Linked DNA regions of Homo sapiens: all the other regions are linked to region 1. Evidence: fine-mapped expression QTL. A gene starts in region 1. Each other region holds a variant in brackets. All regions are shown on one strand. Distances are between the middles of the regions.

Region 1 (8,174 bases):
AGGTGCCCGCCACCATGCCTGGCTAATTTTTTGTATTTTTGTAGAGCGGGGGTTTCACAATGTTGGCCATGCTGGTCTCGACTTCCTGACCTCAGGTGATCCACCTGCCTCAGCCTCTCAAAGTGCTGGGATTACAGGCGTGAGCCACCGTGCCCGGCCTGCTTGCCTGGTTTCTAATGTTTGCTGTAATTTTTCTCCTTGTTCTTCTATAGGTAAGGTATTTTTCCCCCTCTGGCTTCTCTCAAGGTTTTTCTTCATCTTTGGTTGTCTGCAGTTTGCATAGGATATGCCTCGCTGTTGATTTTTTGGTATTTATCCTGCTTTATGCCTCTTAGATTCTTGGATCTGTTGTTTTGTATCTGTCATGAATTTCAGAAAATTCTTAGCCTTTTTTTTTTTCTTTGAGACAGAGTCTCGCTCTGTGGCCCAGGCTACAGTGCAGTGGTGTGATCTCGGCTCACTGCAACCTCTGCCTCCTGGGTTCAAGTGATTCTCCCGCCTCAGCCTCCCGAGTAGCTGGGATTACAGGCGCCCGTCACCATGCCTGGCTAATTTTTGTATTTTTAGTAGAGACGAGGTTTCTCCACGTTGGCCAGGCTGGTCTCGAACTCCTGACCTCAGGTGATCAGCCCGCCTCCACCTCCCAAAGTGCTGGGATTACAGGCATGAGCCACTGTGCCTGCCCTTTCAGCCATTTTTACTTCAACTATTTCTTCTGCCATTTTTTTCCCCTTCTTCTCTTTCCCATTTTCAAGTTATCTGTATTTACATCTTTGGAAATTGTTCCACAGTCCTTGGATGCTCTAGTGTTTGTTTTTGTAACTTCTGTTTTTCTCTTGGTGTATCAGTTTGAGAAGCTGCTGCTGACGCATCTTTAAGCTCACTGGTGTTCTCCTCGGCAGTCTCAGTCTACTTGTCAGCTCGGCAAGGGCATTTCTGTTACATTGTTTTTGACTTTTAATATATCTTTTAATTTTTTTTTTTTTTCTGAGACGGAGTCTCGCTCTGTCACCCAGGCTGGAGTGCAGTGGCGCAATCTTAGCTGATTGCAAGTTCCGCCTCCTGGGTTCACGCCATTCTCCTGCCTCGGCCTCCCAAGTAGCTGGGACTATAGGCGCCCATCACCATGCCCGGCTAAATTTTGTATTTTTAGTAGAGATGGGGTTTCACCGTATTAGCCAGTATGATTTCGATCTCCTGACATCGTGATCCGCCCACCTTGGCCTCCCAAAGTGCTGGGGTTACAGGCATGAGCCACTGTGCCCGGCCTTCATTTTTTTTCTTAAAGTGGACCCCTCTCTGCTTCTATTACCCATTTGTCCTTGCCAATGTCCTTGTCAATATTCAGAGATGTTTGGTCTTGATGTTGTCAACTTTTTCCACCAGAGCCCTTAACATATTAGTCATAGTTATTTTAAATTCCATGTCTGGTAATTTCAGCATCTGTGTCATGTCCCAGGCTGGCTCTGATGCTCCTTCTGACTGACTTTTTTTTTTCTTTTTTGAGACAGAGTCTCGCTCTGTCACCCAGGCTGGAGTGCAATGGCACGATCTCAGCTCACTACAGCCTCCGCCTCCTGGGTTCAAGCGATTCTCATGCCTCAGCCTCCCAGTAGCTGGGATTATAGGCGCGTGCCACCACGCCTGGCTAATTTTTGTATTTTTAGTAGAGACGAGATTTCACCATGTTGACCAGGCTGGTTTCGAACTCCTGACCTCGGGTGATCCGCCCGCCTCAGCCTCCCAAAGTTCTGGGATTACAGGCGTGAGCCACTGTGCCCGGCTCCTGACTGTGACTTTTCTTATCTTTTTTTCATGCCTTGTTGTTTTTCTGGAAAGCCAATCAGGATGTACTAGATAACAGAAACCGAGGTAAATAGGTATTAGGGTGAGGATTTATGTTACTCTGGCTGGGGCTGGGCTGTGTTTGACATTTTCTGTGGCTGTAGGAGCCCAAACCTCATGGCTGTGGCCCAGGCTCTGTGTCACTTCCACCTCTGTACACTCATCTGGAGCCCTGTGTTGATGTGTGACTATCACCCAGTTCTGAGTCCCAGCTGGGAAGTAGGCGCCATCGTGCCCTCCGATTCCATCCTGGCTCTGCCTATTCCCAGCTGTCTGTGCAGGAAGCCGTTGCAGGCCGCATTTCCCACCCTAGCAGCCCTCTGCTAGGTTCAGCCAATGAAAGCCACAGGTGGGAGTTGGAGGGGAAGTGGCAGGGAGAAGCCGGGGTATTTCTCCTCCTCTGTCTGTGCAGAATCTCTGACAGTGGCTATCTCCAGCTGTGGCCAGACAGGCCTTGTGAGGGTCCAGCTTTGACAAGGTGACCATAGCTCCTTGGCTCCAGTAACATCTGCTCTTCCTGCATCAAGGACCTGGGGACTGTTCCTACTGTTGCTGATCTCAAGGTTACTTCACTGAGCCCTGTATGGCTTCTTAGCCTCTTTGGCTTCAAGTCCCTGCGTTAAATTCCCCGTGTTTCAAATACTCAGAGATGTTTGGCTGTGCGGAGACCCTGACTCTTACACTGCACCTGTTCAGGCCAGAGCCACAGACCTCTGAGTGCTCCAGCCCTGCCGCATCTCATCCACCCCCAGCTCTGCCAGGAGCATGGGCCCAAAGACAGAAACATGATCCCCCAGGACAGTCCAAAGAGACCTGCAGAGGACGGATGTGTGCGTTGGGGCCATGAAGATGGAGTAGGAGCTCACTGGACAGAGAAGATGGGGAAGGACACTCCAGGGAGAAGCAAACGCTGAGGTCCACTTGAGAAAAATGCCTGGGTGGTTTTGGTGCTGTGAGATTCTAGGGTAGGTGAGACAGTGTGTGTGTGTTTGTCTGTGTGGGTGGTTTTGGTGCCATGAGATTCTGGGGTAGGTAAGACAGCGTGTGTGCGTCTGTATGTGTGTGGGGGGGTGGGGCGGGGTTGGGTCTGAATCTCCAGCGGGGGCAGCGGAACAAAGGGCTGGATGCCCATCCCAGGAGGTAGATTCATCAGTGCTCCCTATGCGAGAGTGGAAGTGGGGAGCCCCAGTGGGTCCTGGGCTGCAGGAGAATCCGCTGCCCCAGGAGCAGAGACTGGGAAGAAGCCCACAGTAAGGGCAAAGGGTGGACTGCGGAGACTGCTCCGTCCTCCCTCCCCACCCCTACGCCAGGTTTCACTTCTCCCTGAGAGTCCTGGGGCAACACCCCCTGTTCTTTCCCTCGCACCCCCATTTTTAAAATGTTACGTGGGAGCTTTCGGGGACGGGCTGCGGGCATCCGTTTCCCTAGCCCAGTGGGAGGTGGAACCGAAGCCCAGGAGTCCAGGCCTCTGGCCCTGCGCCTCCCTGGCTAAAGAGCGCCCTGTGGGGAGGAAGCAGGGCCCCAGGCGGAACCGGGAAAACACACCGGGGCTTTAAACAGACCGGGCCACTCCCATCGAATTTGGAAAGCGGTTAAAAGAGGTCGTGCCGCATTCTGCGCCGCGTCCCTCTTCCTTCAGTCCCGCCGAGTGTCCCCGACCAGAGGTGACCTCCTAGAAGGGGAGGTCCCCAAACTCGAGGCCCTGCGTGTAGGGAAGGGGAGCGCCCGCCCCTTCCCTGCCGCCGCGAGCGCCCCGGGAGGGGACCGGGGCTGCCGTCCCTCCGCCTCTTCCCCCGCGGGGCGTAGCGATGGCCCGGGCCAGGGCCGGGGCGCTGCTGGCGCTTTGGGTGCTCGGGGCCGCCGCGCATCCGCAGTGCCTGGACTTCAGGCCGCCCTTCCGGCCGACGCAGCCGCTGCGCCTCTGCGCGCAGTACTCGGACTTCGGCTGCTGCGATGAGGGGCGCGACGCCGAGCTGACCCGCCGCTTCTGGGCCCTGGCGAGCCGCGTGGACGCCGCCGAGTGGGCCGCGTGCGCCGGCTACGCGAGGGACCTGCTGTGCCAGGTGAGCGGGCGCGCGGCCACCGGGCGGGGCGGGGCGCGGGAGGCCGAGTCCTGGAGCAGAGATCGGAACCCCGCGGGGGCGAGGGCCAAGAGTGGGCGGCGGACTCGGGAACTCTAAGCCCCAACAGGGAGTCATTTGGCACGGGGCGGGGAGACCGCGCATCCCAGGACGACTCTTGGCTTTGCCATTCATTAGTTTTGTGACTTGGGCCTTCTCGGGGCCTCAGTTTCCCCTCCTGAAGCAGGAAGGACGGACGGACGGACAGATGATGTCATCATTTCCTCAGAGGTTGGGGGCTCTTCTGCCCCAGTCCCCTGGAGTCGACCCCTCAGCGTCCCACCCCGAGCAGCTGCACCCTTGTCGGGGTACCAAGGTGGAGAGGCATCTGTCCCGGTCAGTGCTCCTTTGTGTTGTCCCCGGGGCAGTGAAAGCAGGGGGCCCTGGCGTGGGCGTGGTCAACGTGTGGCCCGGGTTTGTTGAGGGGGTTGGGGCCACTGTCCCCCACGAGCGTCTCACCCCCATCCTGATGCCCTTGCCACTTCCGCCACCACCTCTGTGGGTGCTGTGCCCTCTCCTGGGGATGGCGCCCTGGCCTGCAGAAGCTCTCTCAAGACTGAGCGACAGCTCTTTGTTGAAGCCCCTGGGCCCCCCATCTTCCCTCTGAGGGTGGAGCCCCTGCTTCTGTGCACACCTGGTGGTGCCACCGCTATTTGTTTTCCTCTTGTGGGAGTCTGAGGCCCCAGGGCCTGACCACACCCAAGTGGGCAAATGTTGCCTGGCTGAATGCAGAAATGGAGCAGGACGGGCAGCCCCAAGGCATTCCTGCCTCAGCATCTGGGCAGTGAGAGGCCTGGGGTGGAGAGGCCCCAGGGGCCAGGGCCGTGTCCCAGCCTTCGGCCAGCAGGGGCAGGTGGTGTGGGGAAGGGCAAGAAGGCTGACTTGGAGTTGGAGTTTGATCCTGGCTCTGTCACTTCCCCAGCTTCGTGACCTGGGCAGGTCACTGCTGCACCTCACAATATCTTTAAAATGAAGCTGAGTATGGTGGCTTATGCCTGTAATCCCAGCACTTTGGGAGGCCAAGGTGGGCAGATCACTTGAGGTCAGGAGTTCGAGACCAGCCTGGCCAACATGGCGAAACTCCATCTCTACAAAAATACAAAAATTAACTGGGCATGTTGGGGAGCTCCTGTAATCCCAGCTACTCGGGAGGCTGAGGCAGGAGAAGCACTTGACTCTGGGAGGCAGAGGTTGCAGTGAGCCAAGATTGAGCCACTGCACCCCAGCCTGGGCAACAGAGCAAGACTCCGTCTCAAAAATATAATATAATATAATATGATATGATATGATATGATATGATATGATATGATATGATATAATATAATATAATATAATATAATATGATATAATATGATACATAAAATAAATAAAATAAAACCTTAACCACCCCCCTGGGTGGCCATGCAGATTAAATGCCACATACTAGGGGCTCGGTAAGTGTTTGCAGTTGGATTTCTCGAGGGCTTCCTTGGCCCTCACTGGCTGCCCAGCCCTGGGAAGGGTCCAGGTGAGGCTTGGAGCCCGAATCAAGGAAGACTCAGAGGCAGGCAGGGACTTGCCCAGTGGTCGCACAGCCCAGCGGTGGTTGAGGTGGGGACATGGACCACACTCGCTGAAGCGAGCTCATATCTTAGGTGGGAAGCAGTAGACTCTGGGAGGATGAGGAGGGGGCCCTGGGGAGCTCCAGAATGCAACAGAGGGTGGGCTGGCCACCTTTAGGTGGGCTCTGCTGGACTCCCATGCTGTACACCTCAAGGGCACGGGAATGGTCTGGCCAAGCGTCTGCCTCCCTCACCAGCCTGGGGGCTCCTCAGGACCAGGTCCTTTGGTCTCCCTACCCCCATCACATAGCAGAGTTCCTGCATCCATGCCACATTTGTCTATTGAGCACTTGCTATGTGCCAGGCTCAGCACGGCAGTGAGGTGGGCAGGTGGATGGAGGAAGGGAAGGGTCAGTCCTGATGCTGTCCCCTGGCAGGTTTCTTGGGAAACTTCCCAGGACAGCCTGGCTTTAAGCAACCAGCAGTTAGCAGGAGTGACCACTAACACTTCAGCCCAGGCGTCTCTGAGAGTGACCTCATGTCTGGAGTGAGCTTAGAGACGGCGGCTGAGGCTGGGTTATGGTTTCACTGACGGGGCCTCCTGGAGCATGCTGGCGGGAGGACCATGCTCTCTGCTAGCCAAGGCAGAGTCTGCATTTGGCACCTCCTGATTTCCACACGGGGAGGTGGTGGAGGTGCCTTATTCATAGGTCTCTGTCAGTGTGGAGGCACTCAGGCCTTCACACCTGCTTTGGGGGGATGGGAGACTCTTTCCTGAGGCTTTGCTTGTCCAGTAAGTGCCTGTGTCCTCTGGAGGAGAGAGGACAGCCATGGCACGTGGCATCCCCAGTGCATCTGGTGTGAGCTTCCACATCGCTAACCTCCCCTGTGACTGGGGTTGCCTCTCTAAGCCACTAAAATCATCAAAGCATGGTTTCTGATGGAGATCTCCATGAAATGTATTCTATGGGCTCATGTATTCAGCAGGCTCTTCCTGAGCCTGTTAGGAGGCAGCCCTGTGCTGGATGCTGGGCCCAAAAACAGTTGGCAAGTCACAGGCCCAGTCTCAAAAATCCCCTTCATCACTTCAGGAGACTGACACACACAGGAAGGTGCCAGAAATTCCTCAAGGAGTGTAGGAACAAGGCCACATACCTCAGGGAAGGCTTCCTGAATGTTGGTTGCATGTTGATAGCTCATTATTTACTGAACAAACACATACATCTTCTCCATTTGTTCCTCCCAACAACTCTATGAGGTTGGAATTCCTTTCCCCTTCCACAGATGAGGACATAGGCACAGAGAGGTTAAGGAGCTTGCCCACGGTTAAGAGCAGTAAGAGGTTAAGGAGCATTCCCCATGGGGAATGTGTGCGCTGGCTCCAAAGCCATTCTCCTAACCGCTTTGCCACACTGCCTCCCTCCTTGAAGCCCCACTGTGTCCCACAGTCCGTGGAGTGGACAGACATGCAAAGAGATAATGAAGTCCTAGCCAAGCTGACTGGCTGGAGCGCCCCTGGCGACGGAGCAGTGACTGCTGTAGAGAACTCACCCTGTAAGCTACAAGATTCAATGGAGTGAGTGTCGTGTCTGAGATATGGACAGAGTGCATTGGGAGCATCCATAAGGGCCAGGGATGGGACAGTCAGAGCCCTGGGAGCATGGAGGACAAGAGGAGACCTTTGAGTAGGCCTTGAGTCATGAATAGCAGTTTGCCAGATGAGGAAGTAGGTGAGAAGCAAATATCCGATGGACAGGACACTGTGCAAAGGCTTGCTCTTTCAAAAAATGAACGGTGGACATAAGAAACCTTCAGGACCCAGGGCCATGAGTCACGAGTGTCAGTGACATGGGGGTGGCAAACTCTGGGCAAGATGGGGGCCCTCCGCCCTGCACTGAATGGCCCGGGCGGCTGAAGCCTGCGATACTGGGCTGGTTTCCTATGGCCTTCCTGCCACCTGCCCCTAAACACACTGAGGCCAAGCTGCGGATCATCCTCTTGCCAGCAGCAATCACTATGTCTTCTTGTCACTTCCTAGCTCTGGACTACCCTGGTCTGGGCACCACATTTACGTCGTGTGTAAGTAAGAGTACATAGGCCACGAGGAAGCATCTGCTGTGTGATTGGGACGCACGGATGCCGAGGTCTTCGGCCTGGCTCCCTGAGGGAACTTTTGCTCCCTCTGTAGTTCTGGATTGGGCTTTGGTGAACGGAGGGCTCTCGTTGCCTTCCAGATGTCTGTTCTGCCCCTCACTGCGTCTCTGGAACCAAGATGGTGCCTGGTACAATCTCTGCTCAGTAAATTCTTGGTGAATGAAATGTTGCTGACTAATCTGGAAAGAACACCAGTCCAGGCATCATGAGGCTTGGGTGTGAGCCCTGGTTTGGCTACTTCTTGGCACGTGGCCTTCTTTAAGTCTCAGTTCCTCATCTATAAAATAGGAGTCAAGCCGTGTACGGTGGCTCATGCCTATAATCCCAGAACTTTGGCGGGCCAAGGCGGGAGGATTGCTTGAGCCCAGGAGTTCAAGACAAGCCTGGGAAGCATAGAGAGACCCTGTCTCTGCAAAAAATAAAAATGAAAATTAGCCGGGTGTGGTAGAGCACGTCTGTGGTTCCAGCTACTCTGGAGGCTGAGGTGGGGAGGATCGTTAGAGCCCAGGAGGTC
Region 2 (8,174 bases), 24 kb after region 1:
CTGCCCGCCTTGGCCTTCCAAAGTGCTGGGATTACAGGCGTCAGCCACCATGCCTGAACTCAGATAATTTCTTTATGGCCAGTTTTACACAGAAAGGTTGGGGGAGAGTTACAATAATATTTTTAGGTTCTATGACTGGCTTTGGGGGAAATGTGTGCTGGTTTCTACGATCTGCCATGGGAAAGAGAGATTCTAGTTTCTATGGCACCTCGGGGGAGAACAGGACTGAGAGACGGGAGGACAGGCGAAGGTCAGAGAAAAACTTTTGCTTCGGAGGCAGCTTCTGAGGCCTTCATTTTGGAGCATTGTTTTCTGAGTCTCAACAGCAGCCCTGGGCGGGCTTGGCAGCATCCGCAGGGGCTCCCTGTGTGTGCAGAGGGTTGGGGGCTACAGCTCCCAGCAGATCACGGCTGGAAGGGGCCTTGCAGTCTGCCTGGTCCAGCCTTGTCATTTTACCAATGGGGAAACTGTGGCTGACTATGAACGCCTGGTTATGGAGGAGGGGCACCATGCCCAGCCTGGCCCCTGGACACCTCCCAGAGTGGGGCCTTAAGGTCGGTTGGCCAGATGAACCAGGGAGTTCCTCAAGGGGTTGGAACAGAGGAGACCAGGGCTGCTCCTGGTGGCTCACTCCAGAAAGAGGCCCAGAGGGGAGTGGACGGCCCAAGGCTGTGTGGCCAATTTAGGGCTGTGCCCATGGACTTCTCAGCAGGGACATTCCACCCGGGGACCCCCAATGCTGCAGGCTGCATCATCACCATGTGTGCCTACAGCTCCTCCCCCGACCTCCCCAGTGGGACTGGTGCCCCTGGGTTGGGGGGTCAGGGGCCATTGACCACTCAGCGTACTGCTCTCCTCATCCCCCAGCCCCATCACAGCTGGGTCTACCCCGGTTACACAAGTTACCCCTCAAGTGCCTTCCCTTTGCACTTCCCAAGTTTCCTGTGCCTTGCTTCTCAGACCCCACCCCCATGCAGCCCTCCCTGACTGCACCTGTCCCCAGGGATATGCTTTCCTCCAACCTATTACCAAGCTGTCTGTCTCAGCCTCTCCGTGGGGAAACCCCCCTCCCTGCCCCCAGTCCAGCTGAGCTCTCTGCTATCCTTTTACAAGGACAGAGGTATTAGCATGGCTGAACCCTCAGGATGAGCCATGTGTGCCTTGTGTCTGGGCTCCCAGCCACCATGCATCCAATATTGGTGTGGGGCTGGGGCAGCAGACTTTCCTGAGTTCTGGTCCTGGCTTAACCATTCACTAGCTGTGTGACTTAGGACAAGTCACTTGACTTCTCTGAGCCTCTTTTTTTTTTTTCTCAGCTGTGAGGTAGGAATAATGCAGCCTATTTTCTGGTCATAGGTGCCCCTGGCAGCAGGGGTTGGGAGGGAGGATTGGAGTGGGAGGAGCAGGGAGAACCCACGTTCCCTGAGACAGTCCTCAGCACCAGGGGCTCAGAACTCCAACGGTTACATTTTCAGCGCAGCTCTGAGATGGGGAGAAGTTGAGGCTTAGAATGGGACCATCACACAGCTGCTGGAGATCACAGGGGGCCAAGCAGAGGGGCTAGGACCTACACTCCCAGCCATGTACTCTGCTCCTGCCTGGGAGGTGCTTGTTGTCAGCAGAGAGACACCCTGGCCTCGAGGACCTGGCAGGGCCCAAATCCCGGATGACGCCTGCAATCATAGCTAGCTAATGCTGATGAAGCACACGCTCTGCGCTCTTCAGTCCTTATAACAGCCCAATGAGGCATGCCCATTTTAGAGATGAGGAAGCTGAGGCTCAGAGAGCCACATGTGCCTGCGGGTCCCCTGGAAGCAGTTGGGGAGCTGGGCTGTAGCCCCCTCATGTGCGCCCAGAGGTGTGTGGGGCTGGGCATGAAACCCAGGTAGGTGACAGGGGTGGCGCTGGGTCACCGGGAAAAGGCAAGAGCAGAGATCTGAGCCTGGGTGGGTCCAGGCAGAGTGCCTGACACCCGGAAGACCAGGCTCCAGAGGCCCTTGGGTACAACCCAACTCCTCACCCAGCCTCACTTCCTCTTTCTGGGGACTGGACAGCTAGACTGAGCTGGGATGCCTCACGTGATGGCTAGCTGGGGTTGGGGTCTATTTCCAAGCCTGCAGGGAGCCGGGTGGTGAGGCGGGGCTGGCTGGGACGGTATTCCAGGTGGGGGTCTCACTAGTCACTTTGTTCTGTCCAAAGGGGAGCTGTACTTCATGTCGACAGGGGAGCCGAGTGCCACAGCTCCACGCGGAGTTGTCTACAAAATAATTGACGCATCCAGGTGAGTCCCAGCCTCCAGGACAGGGAGCTCCTGCTGTCTGTCAGGCCTCTTAGCTCCACGGGCTTGTCCCCTCCGCCTCGCCCTCAGGTGGGTGGTATTAATCCCCATTTTCAGACAAGAACCCTGAGGCCCAGAGAGGGACGTGATTTGCCTCAGTTCCTCCGGCAAGGGGCAGACCCAGGATTCAGACCCGGGTCTGCACGCCTCAAAGCACAGGTCTATTAGGATAGGAGGGAGCTGGAGAGGTGACTGGGGCCGCGGGCCGAGGCTTCACTTGGCTTTCTTGCCTGGCCCGCCCTCCCTGCGTCTTCCTCCTGTCTAGCAGGCCCCTCATTCCTCATTTCCTGGGCTGCCCCTGCACCCCCACACCCCAGCCCCCAATTTGCCTCTGTGATGCCTCCCAGATGACACCCTGATCCCTGTGTGTCCCCGCCCCGTGCCTGCCCTTCCTCCTGTGGTCCATCTTCCACTGGGGAAAACACATTGGGGCTCCCTTCGCCGGCTCCATCTCCCCGGCTTCCCTTCTAGCTGTAAGGCCAGAAGCGCCATGCCCGGCTATGTCCCAGCTCCTTCCGTGTGCAGCTCATTGACGTCTCAGCCGTTCATTTTACAGTGGTGGAAATGAGCACAAAGACACGAAGTCATGGGCCTGGGGCCCAGGGCCAGGGTGGGGCCCAGGCCACTGGCTCCAGAGCCCTGCCCTAACCCCTTGGCTGTGTGCCTTCACCTCACCCTCTTCAAGCACCTTCCCCAACCCACGTTGCCCTCCAGGCCTCTGTCCAGCCCTTCCTCAGCTCTCATCACTCAGACTTGGTAATCCCTGGGCTACACGACTGACTCTCTCCCAGCTGCTCTGGGAGTCTCAGGGCCAAGCCTGTATCTCTTCACTCTGCAGAGGCCGCCCAGGTGCTGGGAATGGCACGGAGCAGAGACTCAGGAACACTTGATGAATAAATGAGTGATCAGCTTTCTAAGCTGCTTCTCAGCCCTTAGATTTTCGCTTCTCTGCTGGCTTCCACAGCAGTCTGAACGTCTCTTCAACACTGGGTACGGACACAGCTTGTACTTGTCTCTAACGCAAGGCCTGAGGTTGCACTCCGAGAATCCACACCTTTGGCAGACTCTAGGAGTCCCCACTGTGTTTAGTTACCCTAAACTTTGAGACACACCAGGTTTGGGAAAATCCTGAAACAAGCTGGCATGTTTCACGTTCTTGGGAGGCAGATGGGAGGAGTTCAAGTCCAGCCCGGGCAACACAGGGAGAACTTGTCTCTAAAAAAATTAATTAATTTTACAAAAAGAAAAATTCTAAAACACTTATTGTGCTTAAAATCTTTTACACTGGGCTCAGTGGCTCACACCTGTAATCCCAGCACTTTGGGAGGCTGAAGTCGGAGAGTTTCATGAGCCCAGAAATTCAAGACCAGCTTGGTCAACATAGCAAGACCCCATCTCAACAAAAAATTAAAAAATTAGTCTGGTGTGCTGGCGCACATCTATAGTCCCAGCTACTTGGGATGCTAAGGTGAGAGGATCACTCGAACTCAGGAGGTCGAGGCTGCAGTGAGCTATGATCGCACCACTGCCCTCCAGCCTGGATAACAGAGCAAGACCCTATCTCAAAACAAAAGACATTTTAGAATAGTTTCAGATTTACAGATAAGTTGTAAAAACTACAGTGTTTCCTGTATGCCCCTTACCCTGTGTCCCTTATTATGAACACCTCACATTACCATAGTGTACATGTCAAAATTAGTCAACTAGTATCAGTCCATCACTATTAATTAAACTCTACAACTCCAGTCTTTTACTTTTTTTTTTTTTTTGAGACGGAGTCTTGCTCTGTCTCCCAGGCTGGAGCGCAGTAGCATGATCTCAACTCATTGCAACCTCTGCCTCCCGGGTTCAAGTGATTCTCCTGCCTCAGCCTCCCGAGTAGCTGGGACTACAGGTGCCTGCCACCATGCCTGGCTAATTTTTGTATTTTTAGTAGAGATGGGGTTTTGCCATGTTGGCTAGGCTGGTCTTAAACTCCTGACCTCAAGTGATCGGCCCACCTCGGCCTCCCAAAGTGCTGGGATTACGGGTGTGAGCCCCCACGCCCAGACTCCACACTCTTTTTCAAAGGATGTTTCTAGTTGTTCCCCAATGCCCTTTTCCTGTTCCAGGATCCTGTGTTGCCTTTAGTGGTTGCGTCTGCTTAGCTTTCCCCTGTTTGTGTCAGCTTCTCACTTTCCTTGTTTACCAGACTTTTTTTTTTCTTGTTTAAGAGCACACATAAATTATTGACATGACTTTTTATCAAATAAAACATAATCACTTCCTGCTTCCATCCCTTCCTTCTCATTTCCCTGAGGTCCCATCCATTGTTATCTATGCAGCGCCAGGATTTATGTGGTTGTATTTGGATCACACGCAGACTTGGTTCTTTTTCCTTCATTTATGCCCATTTTGTCTAAACGTTGCAAACATCGCCCTCCAAAAAACCATTTCTAATGGCTGCTTGATTTTCTGCTGAGTC[A/G]CTATAACCCATTCCTTGGAATTTTAGGTTATTTCCAATTTTCAAAAAAGAATGCTCCTCTGAGGAAATGCTACATATACCAAGTGAGTGCCTAATTCATGCCAGATGTTGCCTTAGAGCCATCATCTTCGGTTTTTCCAATCCCGTTTCCCTATTGGCTTGTTGTCCCCATGTCATAGAGAGGGACCCCAACGAGACTTAAGGAGTTCTCTCGCTCACGGTCTTGTGTTAGGAGCCAGAAGTGGGCTAGATTCCTCCTCCCGCCCTGACCCTTCTCCCTTCATTCTCCTGTCTTGGAATAACTGTTTCTTTGCACCCACACATATTACACAGAGGTCCCATTATAGTACATTTGGAAAATGAAATAAATGGGGAGTGGAGGAGGTAGGGTCAGGTCATCTGTTACTACCCACACGTAACCACTGTGGCATTTTGGGGTGGATATCCTACCCTTTTGCATAACAAAGACTTTTAATGCAATTTCCTTAAGGAACAAAAGCCCCACTGGGTCTGTCTGAAGTGTGTGGATGTTCTCTGGAGGTCAGAGCAAGAAAAAAACCTCGCTTTTCCTGCAGCTTTGAGAAGCGTATGTGCCTGGTTGTGTTTCTGCAGCCTCTGGGGACAAAGACCCTTGTCCCTCTTTTGTGTCCCTCTTCGGCCAAGCCTGTCTGGAGGCCACTCCGTGTCACGTGGCTGCTTCACCCCTTGGCCTTTCCACTGGAATCCTATTGAAGTCGTGGGCCCACGTGGGTCTGTCCTGGAATGGGGTCATTCCCAAAGAATCACAGATCGACGGCCAAAAACTAATTAAAACGGAATTCCATTCCCTATTGTGCCCTTAAAAATGTCAAAGGAGACCCAATTCCTAGCCCTGGCACCCTTCTCTGACTCTTTTGTCTCCCTGCTCTCTCACACCCCACATGCCAAGGCCCCAAATCCCTCAGCTCTGCCTCCAGGCACAAGGCTTGCTTTCCTTACCACCCCCGCCGCCCCCGTCCTTTAGGTGGTTCCAGGCAGAGGAGCCTCTCAGATCCTGCATCAGAAATCCAGGAACCAGAGGGGCAGAGAGAGACCCTCCTCAAAGGCTGTAGGGCTGGTGGGAGAGGGTGGCGGGCAGGAATCAGGCTGCATTTCAGGAATCAGACGGCAGGCTGTGGGAGGAGAGAGACTGGCATTTGTTCACACCCTGAGGACAGAGTCCATGCTCTGGATTAGAAATGTCCTGGGAAAGAGTAAGCCTCCAGCCCTGGTGCTATTCCAGCAGAGGCTGAGCGTGCAGCCGGTAGGCTGTTATAGGGGATTTATGCCCTGGAGCTCTTAGAATCCTGGGGGCATGGAGTGGGCAGGGAAGCTGCAGGCCACACAGTAGGTGCATGGTGAATGGCCGCCTGTTACTATCGTTGCTGTTCATACCTGCCTCACTGTAGAGAAAAGGCACCCTCAGGGTGGGCTCCCAGGGTGAGACTCATAACCTCCTGTGTGTCGTTGGCAGGCGGGCACCACCTGGCAAATGTCAGATCCAGCCTGCTCAGGTGAAGATCAGAAGCCGTCTCATCCCCTTTGTGCCCAAAGAAAGTAAGTGCCTGCCAGTGGGACACTGAGGGTTGGGGGAGAGATCCCGCAGCCCACAACGGCTGCCTTTCCAGCCAGACTCGGGTCTTACCAGCTGGACCTAGATGCCCCTCTTCAGCCCCTGTGCCTAGCACTGTGCCTGGCACACATTAGACATGGTGGTAAGGTGGATGGGACTTTAACTAAACTGGGTCTTGCTTGATTGGTCACAATTCCTTAAACCAAGAGAGAAATAGCTGGTGCCAGGCAAGGTACTCTGTGAGTTCTTGGGAGGGACAGAGAAAGAGGATGTATCTGTGTGTAAGCAAGGGAGACCGGAAGAGTTGTTTGTGGGAGGGGCTGGCATATGGGCTGGGCCTTCATAGATTGTTGACAAGCCTGATGAGGAGAGACGACAGAGCAGGGCCACAAATGACTGCCCATGGGGCCTGGGACTGGGGGAAGGGGATGCCCCAGGCTGGGGCTGTTCCCCTGGGCCCAAGTTAGGTGGGAACAAAGACCCTGTGTTGCCAGGTCTTCCAATTCTTCAGAGAAGCAGAAAATCCCCCCATCCACTCATTCACCACGGACACGTGCCCTGCCCTGGGGATACAGCACACGGCGAGACACTGCAGTCCTCGCCTTCTCAGCCTGTTAGGTACAACCTCCCAATTCAAAGTGTTGGCGACTAGTTCAGAATTTTAAAAACCACTCCGCGAGCCAAGGAAAATATTTCAGCAGGCCAAGTGGGCTCAGCAGGCCACCCATTGGCAGACTGGGTGTGTATGGGGGTGGGGAGGGCAAGAAGAGAGGGAGGCTAGGCACCTGGGCTGAAGAGGTACCCGGGTAGAGGGGGAAGGGTCTGAGCTCAGTGATTTTGGAAGTGAGTTCTGGCCACAGTTGGTTTCAGGGCTTGGTGAGTTTTTCATTTACTCATTCAGCAGTTTCTGGCACTTTTGTTAGTTACTGGCTCCATGCTGGATGCCAGAGCCACAGTGAGAAGTCAGACTAGGCCCTGTTCTGGCTGGGACGGACAGAGATGTCATTTACTGTCCAAGGCCTTGTGATCGAAGTGTGTGCCAGGTACCGTGAGGACCCACCCAGAACAGTGGAGACTGGGGTTGGGGGTAGGGGTTCCTGGAGTCTGAAAAGAAGAGGAAGGGTGCACCAATAGGGGGTTGCACTGAGGGGGGTGGCAGCTAGGGGGATGGCACTGAGTGGGTATGGCACTGAGGGGGGTACACCTGGAGGGGGTGCACTGAGGGGGATGGCATGGAGGGGGGGTGCACTGAGGGGGGTGGCACAGAGGGGGTGGTGCACTGAGGGGGGTGCACCTGGAGGGGTTGCACTGAGGGGGGTGGAATGGAGGGGGGTGCACTGAGGGGGTGGCACGGAGGGGGTGGTGCATTAAGGGGGGTGGCATGGAGGGGGGGTGCACTGAGGGGGGCGGCATGGAGGGGGGGTGCACAGAGTTGGGGGATGCACCCAGGCAGGTTGCACGGGGGGGTGCACCTGGGGGAGTGCACTGAGGGGGGCTGGCACCAAGAGGGAGGTTCACTCAGGAGGGTGCACCGAGGGGGGTGGCAGTGCAGGCAGAGGGAACAGCAAGAGCCACAGTGGGAGAGGTGAGGCAGCCTGAGGAGCAGGAGGTGGGGGCCAGGGGCCAGGGTGCAGGGACAGGGAGCGCCTTGCCCATGTCATGGTGCTCTGGGCCCTGGCCTGTGCTTGGCCTTGTGCTGAGAGGCCCTTTCTCAGCTCTCTCTCAGTGGTTTTCAAAGTGGGACTGGCTGAAGTGGGGCGGGATTAAAGAGGTTTGGCCTG
Region 3 (8,174 bases), 34 kb after region 1:
AACCCCGACCTGTAGGCAACACGCCGCTGCCCCAGGCCATCCCGCCGGCGGGGGAGCCTGGCAGGGGCCGCTCCGCCCTGTGTGCGCCCAGCGGGTGCACACGTGTTCTAGAGTGAAGGGGGTGCGGGTGTGTGCTGTCCTGGGGACATGTGTGAGGCGCTGCAGTGCATGTGTGTCCTCTGCAGACCCAAGGCAGGAGTGTGTGTTGGGGGCGGTGTGGGCTCTGGAAGTGCATGGTCCATCATGGGCGGGAGGAGTTCCTTTCTTACCTCCAAGCGTTTCAGACACCAGCAGGAACAGCAGCCGGGCTGTGGGACCCTGAGGAGGGAGGGCAGCCAGGCTTCGAGGACGGACATGGCCCCTGGCTGTGCTAACAGAGGCACAGCTTGCAGACTGAGGGCGGTGGGGAGAACCAGGCTTGTCCTGCCCACAGCTGGAATGGAAGGTGCAAGAACAGCCGGAGGGTGGCCTGAGGAATGTGGCCCGGACAGCATGGCCTGGTGCCCGCATCCCCCCCACCCCCTGGCAGTCAGAGGCGCTGGAGAGAACCGGAAGGCATCCAGTGGGGAAGGGAAAGCCTTCTGGAAGGTGGGAGCAGGGTGAGCTGCAGGCCTGGGGCCCCACTGGAGGGGCAGGCTGCGTGGAGGAGCCAGCACCTGCTCAGGGAGGATGGCTGTGAGGACTGGATGACCTCCAAGGCCGTATGCTGGAGAAGCCACTCAGCAGCATACTCAGTCCTTGTGGGTGCTCCTGGGATGGGACCAGCCTCCTCCAACCCTGAGGCCTGATTCTCTCTTGCTCTTGGGGCAGAAGCCACCCACACTAGCTGGGCAGAGCTTTCACCCTGGCCCTCCAGTGAGTCGGTGGGCCTCCACTACTTTCAAAGCTGTGTTTGGGCCCTGGGGCCACCTCTGTCCTTTCCATCCCCATCCCTGCTCAGTGTAAACCCAGGAGACCTGATTCCTCCAGCCCTACCTCGGGGCTGACCAGGCTGGGGGTCCAGTGAAACTACTGACACTTTTTCACCCAGGGCTATGCCAATAATGTGGCTGTTTACACACCACTTTCCTGCCTCCTCTCTGACCTGCACCTGTGTGGGAGCCGGGGTGGGAACCAGGAGAAAGGGGTGAGGCCTCCCGCTTCCCACCTGCATCACAGGTGGAAGCTCCTTCACTCCAGGGATGCTCGGCCCTGGCTCTGTGCCAGGCCGCAGAGGGGCACTTAGTATGACTGCGCTCAGCCTCGGATGGGAGCACGGGTGGGGGGTGGGTAAGCAGATGAGTCACCAGGCAGTGAAGACAGGATGTGGCCCATGTCGGGGGTTGGAAGAGGTCTGGGTGGGGCACCCAAACCCAACCTATGGGGGGGCTTTGGGAGGGGGTGATGCTGTGCCAAGTTCTGGGAGCTGGCACCAGGGGTGGCTGGGCAGGCCTTGGGGCAGGCATGAGTCTGGCAGGGTCTCCTAGCTGCTAGTATAGGGTCTCCTAGCCACTAGTATAGGATCCTGGGCTGCAGCAGAAAGCTTTAGGTCACTGTCTTGGACTCCTCATACTCTGTGCTTTACAGAATGGGAAACTGAGGCACACAGAGGTTAGATATCTTAGGGCACCAAGCCAGGGAAGGGAGAAGTCAAGTTTGAATACAGCAGCTTAGTTTAGAGTCCCCGCACCCTAACCACTGCCCTCCCCAGCTACACTATGCCTGCAGAGAGCGGTGTGCTGGGGCTCCTGCCTGGTGTGGGAGTGCCAGCCTGGCTGGGAAGCAGCTGATGGAGATCCCTGGGGGCTCCTCTTGCCTGGCAGGTGCCCCCGCTGCTGGCCTCATGCTCCTCTCGGGCCTCCAGTGGCCCAGGGGAGGTTGAGTGGGCATCTTCCTGGGATGCAGGGGAGTTCTGAGCTCTGACGCCGGGCGTGTTAGGAGATAGCAGGCCGTTAATGACCATCCCAGCCGAATTCCTCACTGTGCAGATGAGGAAGTGAGCTCAGGGAGGCTGAGTGTCCCAGGCCTGTTGCCAGATGAGGCCACGCTGAGACTGGAGCCAGGGAAGGTGCAGCAAGCCTTGAGGCCCTCAAGAATGCAGCCGAGCCAGGGCCCTGCTTGCCTGGCCCCAGAAGCTGTTTTGCTCAGAGCTGGATTAGGAGGGTTGGCAAAGGGAGCTCTGGGTGCGGCCTCAGGCCCTCCAGTACTTCTCTGGGCAGTTCGGGCTTTGGCCTTCAGTCTTCCAGGCCAGGCGCTCTTCCTCCCCAGCCTCCAACTCATCACCTCTCAGGCCCCAAACCAGGCCTGGGCTAGGCTGCAGCCTGCCTCCTGGGGACTCACTCCACAGTCCCCAGGTCAGTGGTCCCCAACCTTTTTGGCATCATGGACTGGTTTCATGTAAGACAATTTTTCCATGGATGGGGGTTGGGGGGATGGTTTTGGGATGAAATGTCCCACCTCAGATCATCAGGCATTAGATTCTCATAAGGAGTTCACAGCCTAGATCCCTCGCATGCACAGTTCATAGTAGGTTTCATGTTCCTATGCGGATCTAATGCCACTGCTGATCTGGCAGGAGGCAGAGCTCAGGTGGGAATGCTTGCTCCCCACACTACCCTGCCCCACTGCCACTCACCTCCTGCTGTGTGGCCCGGTTCCTAACAGGCCACCCATCAGTACTGGTCCGTGGCCCAGGGTTTGGAGACCTCTGCCCTAGGTAGTAATAAGAGTGGACAGCTGTTATATGTAAATACTTGTTCCCCGATGCTGGAAAGAAATAGCACTAAAACATAAATTTAATTCTTTCAGCAAGGCAATTTTACTTTCTGCAGAAAGGGTGCTCATCGCAGATGGAACAATAGTGAGAGGACACCTGAACAAAGGAGGGAAGCAATTGTTAGCCCTTATGCAGTTTGTCCCTGCTACTGTGTCCTATGTCCATTGGCAGAAGCCAGACCGCACAATCTAAACTAAAACCCGATTGGCTGTTTAAAATTTTTCTAAATAGGTAAAAGTAATGGAAGGATAAAGGAAAAGAGGAAGTTGCTTACGAAAGGACTTAGAAAAGTAATAATATTCCCAAATAAGGAAGGGGTATAGGCTGTGAGCTGGGACATGCCTGTGAGCACGTCCAGCACAGATATCTTGGTTAAAGTATAAGGACATAGAACGTACTATGTGCCTGTGAGCACGTCTAACAGTTACATAGAATAGGGCTTGACAAAGAGTTATTAGCATAAAGCAAGGAGGTTTGAAGGAAGTTCGTCTTTAAAAGAAACCATTATTTCTAACACTTACGATTTATTCTTTAACAAGAAGGGAAACTTTCAAGAGGAACTTTTACTTTCTACAACAGCTGACCTCTGCTGAGCGCTTACTACATGCCAAGCACTGCTCTGAAAGTTTAACATACCATTCACTCATGTAATCCTCATATTAATGCACATTTACTCACGTGGAAGCCGAGTTCCAGGGCATTTGTCACTTACCAAATGTCACATAGCCAAAATTTGAATTTGAGCCCAGGTAGTCCAGCTCTGGGACCCTGCTGTGGGCCTTCCTGCTGGGCCACCTCAAGGGCATTGAAAGCCAGCCCCACCCCACTGGGACACAAGTTCAGAGAAGGGCAGAGCTGGCTGCCTGTCCAGTGCTTCTTTCACTCCACCACCTACAGCTGGCCGCTGAGGGAGCATTCACATGTGACTCTGTCCCCAGGGACTCCGATCTTGCCTTAAAGTCCTCCAGGGCCTCTGAGGATGGGGGCACAGCCTTCACCCTCACCCCCTCTAATCCAACCTCTAGTCAATAGCCAGGATCAGATTCTCAGAGAGGGGCTGCCCTGCCCAGTGCCACACAGCTTAGTGCTGGAGCCTCAGGGTCAATGCTGCAGGGGTGGCCCAGTGTCCAGGACTGTGTTCAAGACATCAGTCAGAGGTCACAACATCCCAGGCCCTAGACTGAGCCTAGGGGTCACCATGTTGATACCTTAGAAATGTTTGGGAGGTTCAAGGAAGCTGGAAACTGGGTTCCAGTCCTGGCTCTGTGCCTCTCTGAGTCTCATTGCAAAATAGAGGTCACCAGAAGGATTACTGGATGAAAAATGAGGTAGCATTGCAGACGTGCATGGCACGTACACTCTAGGTTGCTTCCTAGACAGAAAGCTCAGTTCGAGGCTGGTGGCATCCATGCTGGCAGCAGCCAACTGTCTGCGACAGAGTGAGGAGGGGCATGCCACGTGAAGGACCAGCATCAGAATGACATGGGAAGAAACTCTCACAATAGCAGAAGAAAGAGCTCCTTCAGCCTAACATGTAGAACTCAAGTCTTCTTGTCGCGCTTCTGTCCCCTCGCCCCTCCTCCCCCACTGAGAACTAGCTTTTACTGAGCAGTTATTACATGCCAGCTACCTCGGGTGTGTCAGCTCATTTAATCTTGACAACAGCTCCACGAGACACCCTCAATATCACTGTCCCTGTTTTCCAGATGAGGGGACAGATTCCTAGGGTGTTATGTAAGTGGTCCCCGGGGCTTTAGAGGCAGGTTTGCACCAAGGCCCATTCTCCCAGAGCCGGATCCTTCTCCTTCCCTGGGATACAGCACCTCCACCCTGCCAGGCCACCCATGTAAAGGCAGCCAATTCAGAGCCACCTCTTATGCCTGCATCTCCCCAACAATTCCTGCTGGGAAACCACTCCTCGTATGGTGTCATCTACACCAGTGGGTTTCAAGCTTGAGAAGAATCAAGTTCTACAGGGCTGCTTAAAACACAGGTTGCTGGGTCCTGTCTCTCAGAGTTTTTGACTCAGTCTTGGTTGAGAATTTTCAGTTCTAGAAGCTCCTGGGTAATGCTAATCCTCCTGTTCTAGGGGCCATAGTCATTGTCCATACTGGTGCTATCCAATAGAAACATAATGTGAGCCAAATAGGTAATTTAAAATCTGCTTGTAGCCATGTTAAAAAAGTAAAACAGGTAAAATTAATTTTA[ATAATATATT/A]TTATTTAACCCAACATATTCAAAATATTATCATTTTAACAGGTACCTATATATAAATATCAATTTTTTTTTTTTTTGAGACAGGGTCTGGCTCTGTCACCCAGGCTGGAGTGCAGTGGTCCCATCACTGTTCACTGCAGCCTCAAACTCCCAGGCTCAAGTGATCCCTCCACCTCAGCCTCCTGAGTAGCTGAGACCACAGGCATATGCCACCATGCCTGGCCAGTTTTTTTGTTTGTTTGTTTGTTTTCATTTTTTGTAGAGAAGTGGTCTCCCTATGTTGCCCAGGCTGGTCTTGAGCTACTGTTCTCAAAAGATCTATTGCCTCCACCTCCCAAAGTGCTGGGATTACAGTTGTGAGCCACTGTGCCTGGTGACCTTTTTTTTCCATTCTTTTTTGGTATTAATCTATGATATCTGGTGTGTATCTTACACATAGCACATCTCAATTGGACTAGCCACATGTCAAGTACCAGAAAGCCACATGTGGCCAATGGCTGCCACATTGGATAGCTTACTCCAGACCCTCCAGTGAAGGAGCAGGTGGTTGGCCACGTGCTTCCAGGCAGCGCTGCCCACCCAGGAAAAGGGCTTTCAGCCCTGGGACCTGGAGCCTTGGTATGCAGCCTGTGTTCCCTTACCTGATCACAGGATAGCTGGGAGCATCAAATGAGGTGGTGATGGGACAGCTGTGGGCTTGGTGCCTAGGGAGAGGGGAGACTGTTGGCTCACAGATGGGAACGGCAACTGCTCTGGAAGTGCTGCTCCTGGGGTAAGCCATGGTCATGTTGAGCCAGAGATCACTGGTGCTGCCCGATGTGTCAGAGAAGACGTATGCCCACTCCTCTCCTTAGCCGTATTTGGAGAGGTTCACGCTGACCACTGCTCCCTGATGCTGCTCTACACCTGCTTTCTGTGGGGCTCCAGGCTGTGCCTGGAGCTGTTCAGGACCTGGCTCTTCCCTCAAGGAACTGTGACAGTAGGTAGTCAGGCAGACATGAGCAGGGCAGGAGAGGGCCCTCCCCCAACGAGGAATGTCAAGTGGCCATCAGATGATGGTCAGGCAGTTGATAAACTGCTTCTCTCAAATAATAATTGGTCGCAGCCAGTGCCAGGGAGAGGCAGTCTCCCAACAGATGGAAACACCTGAAGCTGGTGATCAGCTTCCCGATAAGATCTCAGGAGCTGGGCGAGTGGGCTCAAGCATGCACACTAAGAGGCAAAATGGCAGCGATTAACTGGTAGATGACCTTCCTCTAGGAACACCGGTAAGGGAAAAACACCTCAAATGAGCGCGCACATAACTTCAGTAAACACAGCTGTGCATTCGGCCCCTCCCAGGTGCTGACAGGCCACCGCGCACGCAGACAGCCCGCCCCAAGGGAAGAATCAGGGGCGAAGAGAGATGCAACCCCCCGGGAGCATGCCAACCTACAAAACCCCGAGTCAAAGGTCAAGCCACACACTTGCCTCTCTCAAGTCACCTGCTTGGCCCTCTTCTAAGTATACTTTACTTCCTTTCATGCCTACTCCAAAACTTTTTTTTTTTTTTTTTTTTTTTTTTTTTCTGAGACGGAGTCTCGCTCTGTCACCCAGGCTGGAGTGCAGTGGCGCAATCTCGGCTCACTGCAAGCTCCGCCTCCCGGGTTCACGCCATTCTCCTGCCTCAGCCTCCCCAGTAGCTGGGACTACAGGCGCCCGCCACCACGCCCAGCTAATTTTTTGTATTTTTAGTAGAGATGGGGTTTCTCCGTGTTAGCCAGGATGGTCTCGATCTCCTGACCTCGTGATCCGCCCGCCTCGGCCTCCCAAAGTGCTGGGATTACAGGCGTGAGCCACTGCGCCCGGCCTCTAAAACTTTTAAATACATTTTCACTCCTGCTCTAAAACTTGCCTCTCACTCTGCCTTACGCCCCTCAGTCGAATTCTTTCTTCTGAGGAGGCAAGAACTGAGGCTGCTGCAGACCCATATGGATTTGCTGTTGCTAACAGTACCATTGTTCCAGGGGTCTGGAGAGACAAGGCAAGAGAAAGTCCTCTTCAGACAGTGCGATGCACTGTGTAATCTCAGGGAGCCGTTCCACAAACTGGATACTAAATGTGATGCCGTCACATTTCTTTTCTAGCTAACCACCCCAACCCACCTTCCAGTGCGCAGGAATCCACACCCTCCTTCTTGCAGCCTCATCCTCCCTCCAAATTGCCCTCAAGCCCCGGAGCTTTCACAGCCCACAGGGGACCTGGTGGCTCCGTTCCACACCTCACCCCAGCAGGGCCAGCCTGAGTTACCCTGTGGGCCTGCGGCTGCCTGTCACCGCCGCCACACGGGGGCGCCATAGCAAGCCAACATCCCCGAGTCCAACTGGGCGGCCGGGCCAGGCGCCGGGGGGATGGATGCTCTGCTGCCCACCTGTCCAGGCTGCGGTGGCCCCGAGGGCAGAAGTCCCGCCTCCTCCGTGCTGGGCACGGCTCTTAAGACTTGGCCGTCTCCGTCGCCCCTCAGCCCACACCCCTAACAGCCATGTCCCATGTCCCTAACTATACCTGGGAAGGCGGTACCAAGGTCCCCTTCGTTTTCCAACCCCCAACCTCTCCAGGACTGGCTCAAGCGTGGGGCAGGGGCATTGCCTCTTCTCAGAAACCCAGCAGCATCTACACTCCCTGGGCCTCTACCTCCAGCCCGGGGGACCTTTACCTGGGCTAGGAGTGGGCACACCTGGCCTTCCCCTGCCACGACTTTCACGCTGGGTGGTCCCTCGGGATAGGAATTGGGAACTAAAACGCCCAGAATTGGCCTCATCTTCATACGGGATGGGCAAGGAGACGCGGGTTACGACAGAGGGGGAAGCCCTGGTCATTATTTCGAAAATACCTTCTCCTCCGCTACCCCCGCCTCCCCGGCACATTTCCCGCTTTCCCTGGAGGGCGGACCCAGATTTTCATCCCTCCAACTCCAACTCCTTCGGGCCTGAGCCAGCGCCTCAGATGGGGCTTCGCCTGGTCTAGGAGGGTCCGCAGGCCCCCGAGTCTCTGGGAGAACAGCCTCCGGCCACGCCGTGCGCTCTCGGTCGCAGACACAGGCGTCCCTGGGTCCCGCAGGATCCTGCCACCAGCCCGCGGGCCCCGCTGGCGGACCACGGGCGCTAGGCGTGGACTGTCCGGGCGGAGGAGGCGCCCCGGGGCAACTGGAGAACAACTTTGG

Direction of the effects. Positions count from the first base shown, and alleles are read on the strand shown. Sizes are in standard deviations (SD) of each study's normalised expression.
In carriers of allele A in region 2, the expression in fibroblasts of the gene that starts at base 3,575 in region 1 tends to be higher than with G alone (moderate effect, 0.75 SD a copy in GTEx).
With allele ATAATATATT in place of A in region 3, the expression in testis of the gene that starts at base 3,575 in region 1 is lower (moderate effect, 0.59 SD a copy in GTEx).

The links.
Region 2: its variant is fine-mapped to the expression of HHIPL1 in fibroblasts (GTEx, PIP above 0.99). The same link has a PIP of 0.9 or more in caudate and prefrontal cortex.
Region 3: its variant is fine-mapped to the expression of HHIPL1 in testis (GTEx, PIP above 0.99).

Annotation. Positions count from the first base shown.
Region 1 is chr14:99,641,555-99,649,728 of GRCh38, forward strand. It overlaps HHIPL1 (HHIP like 1), which reads left to right and starts at 3,575. Exons shown (of 9, transcript NM_001127258.3): 1 at 3,575-3,908. The coding sequence starts at 3,654.
Region 2 is chr14:99,666,023-99,674,196 of GRCh38, forward strand. It overlaps HHIPL1 (HHIP like 1), which reads left to right. Exons shown (of 9, transcript NM_001127258.3): 7 at 2,200-2,281; 8 at 6,295-6,377. Among named protein-coding and RNA genes, the nearest start is that of CYP46A1, 14 kb to the right of the region's middle. RefSeq lists enhancers at 1,697-1,856, 3,055-3,596, 4,538-5,137, 5,138-5,739, 5,740-6,339. The variant A/G (reference allele first, on the strand shown) is at 4,803.
Region 3 is chr14:99,675,612-99,683,785 of GRCh38, forward strand. It overlaps HHIPL1 (HHIP like 1), which reads left to right. Exons shown (of 9, transcript NM_001127258.3): 9 at 1-4,958. The coding sequence ends at 15. Among named protein-coding and RNA genes, the nearest start is that of CYP46A1, 4.6 kb to the right of the region's middle. RefSeq lists enhancers at 1-45, 609-1,172, 1,173-1,735, 7,182-7,251. The variant ATAATATATT/A (reference allele first, on the strand shown) is at 4,964.